Linked DNA regions of Homo sapiens. The protein of the gene in region 1 purifies or fractionates together with the protein of each later gene. This does not show direct contact. Each region holds a gene or a part of one and is shown in the gene's direction. Other genes may lie near its edges. The genes, in order: RBM38 and LARS2.

Region 1 (4,252 bases):
GCAGAGGGCTAGAGCGGGAGCTGGGGGAGGGAGAGGTCAGAGGTCAAGGCTGCCGCGTGGAGCGTGGGCCGTGGAGTGGGGGAGGGGGCGGGCAGACTCCTCCCCGCCGGCAGCCAGGGCAGAGGGCTGGAGGAAACGCGGAGAACTCCTCGGTGCTGGAGGAAACGAGGGGAACTCCTCGCCGGCCTTGCGGTCCCCCACAGCCCACGGAGTGCCACTCCCAGTCCCCACAGACCCCACCTGCGTCGCCCTGTGCTGAGAGGAGGCCGCAGGGCTGGGGCCGGGAGTGACCCCAATTAGAGCTGCTGTTTCCCAGCTGCATAGGTCCCAACCGCGGGGGCTGGAGATGAGGCGGGCTTGAGGCCCCTAGTCCCGGCTTCAGAGGTGGAGGGTGTGACCCGCAGGTCCGGGATCCCGGGGTCTGTGCAGTCACACGGCCCTTCCCTTCGCTCAGGAAAGCCCGGGGCTGAGTTTCATGCTCAACCGCTGCCAACTTGAAATTCCTAGCTTTTGAATAAGGGGCCCCGCGTTTGCATTTTGCACTGGGCCCCGAAAATTCTGTGGCTGGCCCTGCCTGGTGTGAAGCTCACAGAGCCCCACTATGCGCCGCCTTTCTATGGCTGGGGGCCGGATGAGGGACCCGGGTCTGCTCTTACTCGCCCCAAGGGTCCCTGACACCAGCCCAGAACGGGGTGGAGCTGGAAAGAGCCCACACCTGCTTCCTCTGCCCACCTCATCTCCCGCGGGGCCTCTGAGACCGCCCGGGACCCGCTTCTATCGCGGCACCGTGGTGTAGCTCCCTCCGGGGTCGTATGCTGTATGTTTACTAGCCGAATTCTCAGTCCTGGACGCTCCGTGGGGCCAGGGAATATGATCTGTGCTCCGCTGCAGCCTCGCGCCCAGAGTAAATATCGGTCGGATGAACTAATCTTACATATAAAACAGAAATCATTTCCCTTTTTTAATATGGCACGTGGCTCTTCCCTAAGTCGCCCTGGGTTAAATACCGACTCAATTAACAAGATGCTAAAAACCGTTTACGTTTTTTTACGTTTTTTACGTTTAATTCACCAGACGGTGCGCTCCACGAGGGAAGGGGCCTGGCCTCCCTAGTTCAGGGTTGTGCTTAGTGCCTGCAACCGGCCGGGCCCGCGGGGGCAGCCAGGAGAGAAAGGCGCGCCCAGCGCCCCCAGGCCCGGATCCGCCCTCAGCCCGCGTGCGCTCCCCTCCCCCCTCCCCCCAATCGCCGCGCGCCCGGGTGCGGCTGGGCGGGGTTAGAACTACGCTTCCCGGCGGTCCCCGCGCGCCCGGGGCGGGGCGGGGCCGGCTGGGGGCGGGGCTGAGCTGGCGGGGGCGGCAGGCTACAAAGCCCGGGGGCGGTGCCGGGGCGCAGAGTCCCCGCAGCGCCGGTCGGGAGCGCAGCGCGGCGCACGTCGGCGCGCACGGCGGGACGGGCGCCGGAGTGGTCGGGCCTGGCGGCTGGACGGGCGCCCCTCGCTGCCCCGCGCGCTCCCCGCCGCCCCCCATGAGCGCAGCCCCGCGCGGCCCGGGTCCGTAGGCGGCGGGGCGCCCCCCATGCTGCTGCAGCCCGCGCCGTGCGCCCCGAGCGCGGGCTTCCCGCGGCCCCTGGCCGCCCCCGGCGCCATGCACGGCTCGCAGAAGGACACCACGTTCACCAAGATCTTCGTGGGCGGCCTGCCGTACCACACTACCGACGCCTCGCTCAGGAAGTACTTCGAGGGCTTCGGCGACATCGAGGAGGCCGTGGTCATCACCGACCGCCAGACGGGCAAGTCCCGCGGCTACGGCTTCGTAAGTGGCCCCCGCGCCCGGGCCCGCACCCCGCCGCACACCTTATCGCGGCCCGGGCGCCGAGTCCACTCCGGGGCACACGCCCAGACGGCCCGCTGCCGCCCCCGCCCCAGGCGCCTCCAGCCGGCGCCCGCACCTGCCGCCTCTCCCGGGCGCGCTCCTGCCGGTCCCGCCCCCACCACCCCAGGCCCCGGCCCCCACCCCCACCCCCACCCCCACCCCCACCCCCGGTTTAAAAGGAAGAGCCGCTGTGTTCAATTAGGACTCCTAAGTTGGTGGGGAGGTTTTGGAGCCAGAGGGCACTCGGGATTTCCTGGAGCAGCGGGGGGTGAGGAGCAATGGCTCCACCCCGGGGTGTTAGGAGCTCTTCGGCCTCCCCCATATTTTTAACAGCCCTCTCAGCCGCCCCAAATAAACATCAGCTTAAGTAAAAACGTCTTGAAGACACTTTCCTGCTTACCTTCCAAGCATAGCGTCGCAAACTCCTTCTCAGAGGAAAGTCTCGGCCCTCACTGGTGGGCAAGTCCAGGCGGCCCCCCAAGCTCCCTTCGGGGTTCATTTTTGCCCTATCCCCGCAGGGGATTATTTTTGTCCTTGAAGGCCACATTTCCCAGGCCTTGAACTTTGACGGGAGGAGCTGGAATCCAGGAGGCATCTTTGTGGGAGAGCCCCAGGTAGGGTTCAGAGGAGCTTTGGCTCAAGGACCCTGGGTCACAGGCACCCTCAGAGGAAGGGAAGAGAGGGGTGGCAGCATCCGGTGCCAGGGCGGAGCCGTCTGCCCCTTTCGCCCCTGGTTCCCCCCACGGCAGCCCCTGATGTGTCTCTGCTCCACCAGGTGACCATGGCCGACCGGGCGGCAGCTGAGAGGGCTTGCAAAGACCCGAACCCCATCATCGACGGCCGCAAGGCCAACGTGAACCTGGCATATCTGGGCGCCAAGCCGCGGAGCCTCCAGACGGGTGAGAGCTTGTGTTTTCCTGCCTGGCTCTTCTCGGTTTCTATATTGGGTGTCGGTATCTGTCGGGTGGAAAGAGGCCCCCCCTCCTCGCCCCAGCAGTGGCAGTCGGCTATCATGTGCCTGCAGAGCCGGCACAGGGCAGCCATCCCCCCCTCGAGGATCTAGACCCCTTCTCACAGCGTGTGGCCCAAAGAAGGGGGCGGGGGGCAGGGAGGGTACTGCACCCCAGTTGCCAGCTGTCCTCGCAGGAGGGAGGAAGTGGCCATGGGGCCTGGAGGTTGGGAGTGCCGACACCAGTGGCTGCTGACACCTGCGTCACTCACTGCCACACTTCAGCGGTGTGCCTTGGGGTTCACAAGGGGGAGGCCTGGGAGGGGAGAGGAAGCGGATGATCCCTTTTGACTAGAGGTGTGTGGCTTGTGGGATTCTGCCACCCTGTGTGCAGCCCTTGAGACGTGGCTCGTGCAGCAAGGCCAAGTCCCTGATTGTTCTCTCGTTTTAGGCTTTGCCATTGGGGTGCAGCAGCTGCACCCCACCTTGATCCAGCGGACTTACGGGTGAGTGGACATGGCTGGCTTGGGGTGGGTAGTCCGTGGAGATGAAGTGGAGAGGGCCTTGGGCTTCCTGGGTCTGGAAGGCTGGGGAAATGACAGTTTTCAGACATTTGATTGCGTTTAAGCCAAGGGAGTGAAGAGAAGGCAGATTGCACTTCTCCATCCCTGGCAGAGGCCATACCACCTAGGGGATGGTGAGCCTTGGAGCCTGCCTGCCTTGGTACACACCCCAGCTCCCTTCGCTAGGTGTGTGGCCTCAGTTTCCTCACCCGTAAAATGGGAGTGGTCACAGCACATCTGAGTTCTCTGAATGGAGGGCCTAGGGTGGGCCTGGTGCAGGTAACGCCCTCTTGAAGTGTTTGCTGATGACTCTTAGGGACTGGCAGGCTGAGTTCTTCCCCAGGCACTCCTCTCACCTGTTCTAGTGCTGGGGCAGGTGGTGGCAGTAGGTCATTGCTACCAAGGTCTGATGTTTGTGAACGTTGCTGTAGATACGATGTGTTTGGGGTGGAGGCCACCTGCCTGAGTGGCCTGGCCTATGGGCTTCTAGTCTGACTCATTTACAAGCAGCGCAGCCCACTCTTCTCCATCCTAAAACGCCTCCCACCTCCCTGCCCTTTTTTAAAACATCTAGTAAGTCCTGGCAGCTGCTTGGGGAGGGACACACACACTTAAGGGATACAAAGAGTCCTGCCTTGCGGCCTGCCTCCCCACCCCCATGATGGATGGAAGCTGTCTGCCCTAGCGCCGTGGCATATTGATGGGGTTGGAGTTGGAGGGGAAGGCAGCTCAGAGACCACCACCCCTTTCAGGGCATTGGCACTTCATGAACTTTCTGAATCCAAATCCCTAATGCCAGTTGATCACGTGTGTGTGCTCACGCATGTGCGCACCACGTAGATTCCATTGAGAGAGACACAGCTTGAGG
Region 2 (3,807 bases), on another chromosome or scaffold:
ACCCTCTTTGTTGATAAGCGCTGACAAAGGGCTTCCCTACCAGAGATGTTGGTGGCCTGCATACAGCACAGCAGTTGTGGCCTTATTGATGAGGATAAGGTTTCCTGCTTGGCTGCAGAATTACTGGAGGGCAGAACCTAGGCCTTGGTGTTGGGCAAGGCTCCCTGGATGATCTTTTTTTTTTTTGAGATGGAGTCTCGCTCTGTCGCCCAGGCTGGAGTGCGGTGGTGCAATCTCGGCTCACTGCCAGCTCCACCTCCCGCGTTCACACCATTATCCTGCCTCAGCCTCCCGAGTAGCTGGGACTACAGGTGCCCGCCACCAAGCCCGGCTAATTTTTTGTATTTTTAGTAGAGATGGGGTTTCACCGTGTTAGCCAGGATGATCTCCATCTCCTGACCTCGTGTTCTGCCCGCCTAGGCCTCCCAAAGTGCTGGGATTACAGGCGTGTGCCACCACGCCCAGCCCCTGGATGATCTTAATGAGCATCCAAGGCTGAGAGCTACTGAGCCAGTGTGGCCGAGCAAGGCAGCCCAGTGGTACAGACTACAGGCACCAGAGCCCACCAGATGTGGATTCCTTACCCTTGAACTACAAGACCTTGGACAAGGTTCTTAACCTCTCTGAATCCTAGTTACTCATCTGAAAAATGGGGATATGAGCAGTATCGGTCTCATAATCCCCAGGGCTACTGGGGATTAAATGAGATAATACTTCTGCGGTACTTGGCTCAGTTCCTACTACCCAGTATTATTATTATTACTATTGGAGCTAATCCTGATAACATTATCACCATTATCTATCACTTCTATCCCTCCTGCTTGCCACGTAGCTTCTTCCTTATCATCTAGTTTTTAGTATCAGCAATAAAACATGTTAGTTGCCTTCAAGTCCAACAAGACCATTAAAAAGGAAATCAGCATGGCAAATGTTAGCCAGCTGTTATTCCTTTTATAAATTGAGCCCGCATTTTCTCCCTCACTTGGACCTCACTTGCACAAGGTAAGTGAGGAAGATGAAGTAATCTTTATTTTCTAATTATTTCCCAAAGTAGTGTCTGTGTTCTGGTTGATTGCTCTCCAAATAAAAAGACCTGGCTTCAATTTAGAGGCGCACTGTTGAGATCAGCTTCTTAGAGCAGCCCTGGGTGGTAGGAAGCTGGGTTCCCCGAGGGCTCTCTCTGAAAAGCTTCTACTCTTAGAGACCACCACTGTTCTCATTGGGAGGTCCCCTGATTAAAATGCAGGGGGTCCCAAAGCCCTGCCAGATCTAGGGCGCCCATGCTCTCTGCTCAGCCACTGCATTTAACCAGCTGACGAGGGAGCTGGAGGACTATGTGGGGGACTGGCCATTTCCTTGGGTAATATTTGTAAAGCTGGTATGAACTACTTCACAAATGGAAGACAGAAATACAACCCTTCTTTTATTCTTAAATTAAAAATACACTCAAGCCCATACATGCTAAATTAGCAGAAGATTTATCAGTTCCTCTTGGGATTCCTCATCCCTTCTCCCCAAATTCTCCAATAACACCCAAAGACTTACACTGCCCAAAGCGCAATATTTGGAGGGGCGATGAGCTTCACATCCATGCCTTAGAAGGGAGAGCCTGCTATGGCTTCCCACTGCCACAGAAGGCCCTGTTGATAGCTGGTCCTACCCATCAGACAGAAGGTGCTGGTTCTCTGCTGATCCAGGCCTTGAGGAGTCTCCAAGGCAGCTAATCCCCGTCCTGTGCTAGGCTTGACTAAGGGCACCTTCTTTTGAGTTCCTAGGTAGTGTGGCTTTTGGCACCTGGTTCCTTCAGTCCCACAGGCCCACAACTCTAGGAATGTTCTTAAGAATGAGTGTAGCAGCTGGGCATGATGGCTCATGCCTGTGATCCCAGCACTTTGGGAGGCTGAGGCAGGCGGATCACTTGAGGTCAAGAGTTCGAGACCAGCCTGGCCAACATGGTGAAACCCTATCTCTACTAAAAATACAAAAATTAGCCGGGCATCATGGCATGCACCTGTAATCCCAGTTACTCAGGAGGCTGAGGCAGGAGAATTGCTTGAGCCTAGGAGGCAGAGGTTGCAGTGAGCTGAGATCGAGCCACTGCACTCCAGCCCAGGTGACAGAGCCAGACTCCATCTCAAAATAAAAATAATGAGTGTAACACTTGGGCCCTTGTGAGACCTTGGTCCTGCTGGACATGTCTGTCCCTAGGACAGGGATTCCTTTTTCTATGCAACCCTTCACATATCAAGGATCTCACTTTATTCTCTGTCTTGAACACCAGGGCTTTCTTCACTCTTCCATAAGGAACCTACCTTTAGGCAGTGGTCTCATGGTAGATATGTAATTAGCTTTGGAGGGGGGTCCTGATTTCTAGCATTTGCCAATTTCCGTGATGTACATACTCCCATCAGGGCCAGTTTCAAGCTACCAACTTGCCATCTTTTGTCACAGTGTTGTGAAGAGATGCCCCAATTGATTCTTACAGGCTGGCATGAGCTGGAGCAACCATTGCCTTTGGGGCTTCCAAGTTGGTTTGTCTTCCTCGAGTCATCCTGGTAGATTTCTGCACCTGTCACCCCAGAACAGAAGTAGAAGAAAAATCCAAGTTGATTTTCCACACATCTCCCTATATTTGGTTCTCATTTGTCTTCATGCATTGATTGGCTTCATAAGCATCATAAAGTAGGCATTGGCGAAGGCAATCTTGACATGCCTGGAACAGAAGTTAAGGCACAAAAGAGATACCTAATCCTGTCTTGTCCTTTTGGATGGTGAGGCTTTCTACCAGGTTAAATTCAGAGAAGTGGAAAATAAGGCTTTTAATTGTTGAAAATTGAAACTTTTATTTGTAAATAAATTTCTTTAAAACATCGCATACTATACAATATAAAAAGAGAGCTTTCCCTGAATTGTCTTTTCATATGTGGCTTTATTCTTTTTTTTTTTTGAGACAGAGTCTTGCTATGTCACCAGGGTGGAGTGCAATGGCACGATCTTGGCTCACTGCAACCTCCACCTCCCGGGTTCAAGCCATTCTCCTACCTCAGCCTCCCAAGTAGCTGGGACTACAGGCACACGCCACGACGCCCAGCTAATTGTTCGTATTTTTAGTAGAGATGGGGTTTCACCATGTTGGCCAGTATGGTCTCGATCTTTTGACCTCGTGATCCACCCACCTCAGCCTCCCAAAGTGCTGGGATTACAAGCGTGAGCCACCACACCCAGCCTGTGGCTTTATTCTTATGACATTTTAAATTCATACTTATAGCTCTCTCAAAAGCTGATGGAAAACTGCATTAAAATTTAAAAAGAAACCAATTGATGAATTTCATTTCTTTCTTAGGTGCAAGGGAGCAGCCAAGAGAGAGACAGACACGATGGATACCTTTGTTGATTCTGCTTGGTACTACTTCAGATACACTGACCCTCATAATCCACACAGGTAAAACGTCCCTGCTGATGTCTTTGAGCATTTGTCAGTGTGGCTCCTCCTAGAAGCAAAGACCAAGATGGAATTAGACATGCAAGAGATTTCTTGGGGGGAAATGCCTGTGCAGATTAAAGGGGAGAAGAGGAGGAGTGGGCAGAGAGTGCTCTTAGACCACGATGGAGCTGTGACAGGTGTGAAAGGAGAAGGGAAAGGAAGGAGGATCAGGTGGAGGAGCCTCAGCCCACAGCACAACTCTGAGAAAGCCTCGACCTGGCCAGTGGGAAGGCCCAAGCAAAGCTTGTCCATTAGAGTCTTACAGTCAGGCTAAAATGGCTCTGCTCCAGCCCCTCCCTCTACTCTCCTGGGAGCAGCCTGGG

Evidence for each region.
Region 2: the proteins of RBM38 (region 1) and LARS2 purify together in Homo sapiens (co-immunoprecipitation; one large-scale study listed by IntAct). This does not show direct contact.

The regions. Positions count from the first base shown.
Region 1 is NC_000020.11:57,390,007-57,394,258, forward strand, and holds the start of RBM38 (RNA-binding protein 38), read left to right. Parts: upstream 1-1,389; 5' UTR 1,390-1,575; coding exon 1,576-1,812; intron 1,813-2,272; exon of another isoform or gene 2,273-2,390; coding exon of another isoform or gene 2,391-2,486; exon of another isoform or gene 2,487-2,647; coding exon 2,648-2,771; exon of another isoform or gene 2,772-3,050; intron 3,051-3,272; coding exon 3,273-3,327; intron 3,328-4,252. UniProt on the Homo sapiens protein: RNA-binding protein that specifically bind the 3'-UTR of CDKN1A transcripts, leading to maintain the stability of CDKN1A transcripts, thereby acting as a mediator of the p53/TP53 family to regulate CDKN1A.
Region 2 is NC_000003.12:45,492,932-45,496,738, forward strand, and holds part of LARS2 (leucine--tRNA ligase, mitochondrial), read left to right. Parts: intron 1-2,312; exon of another isoform or gene 2,313-2,569; intron 2,570-3,343; coding exon 3,344-3,442; intron 3,443-3,807.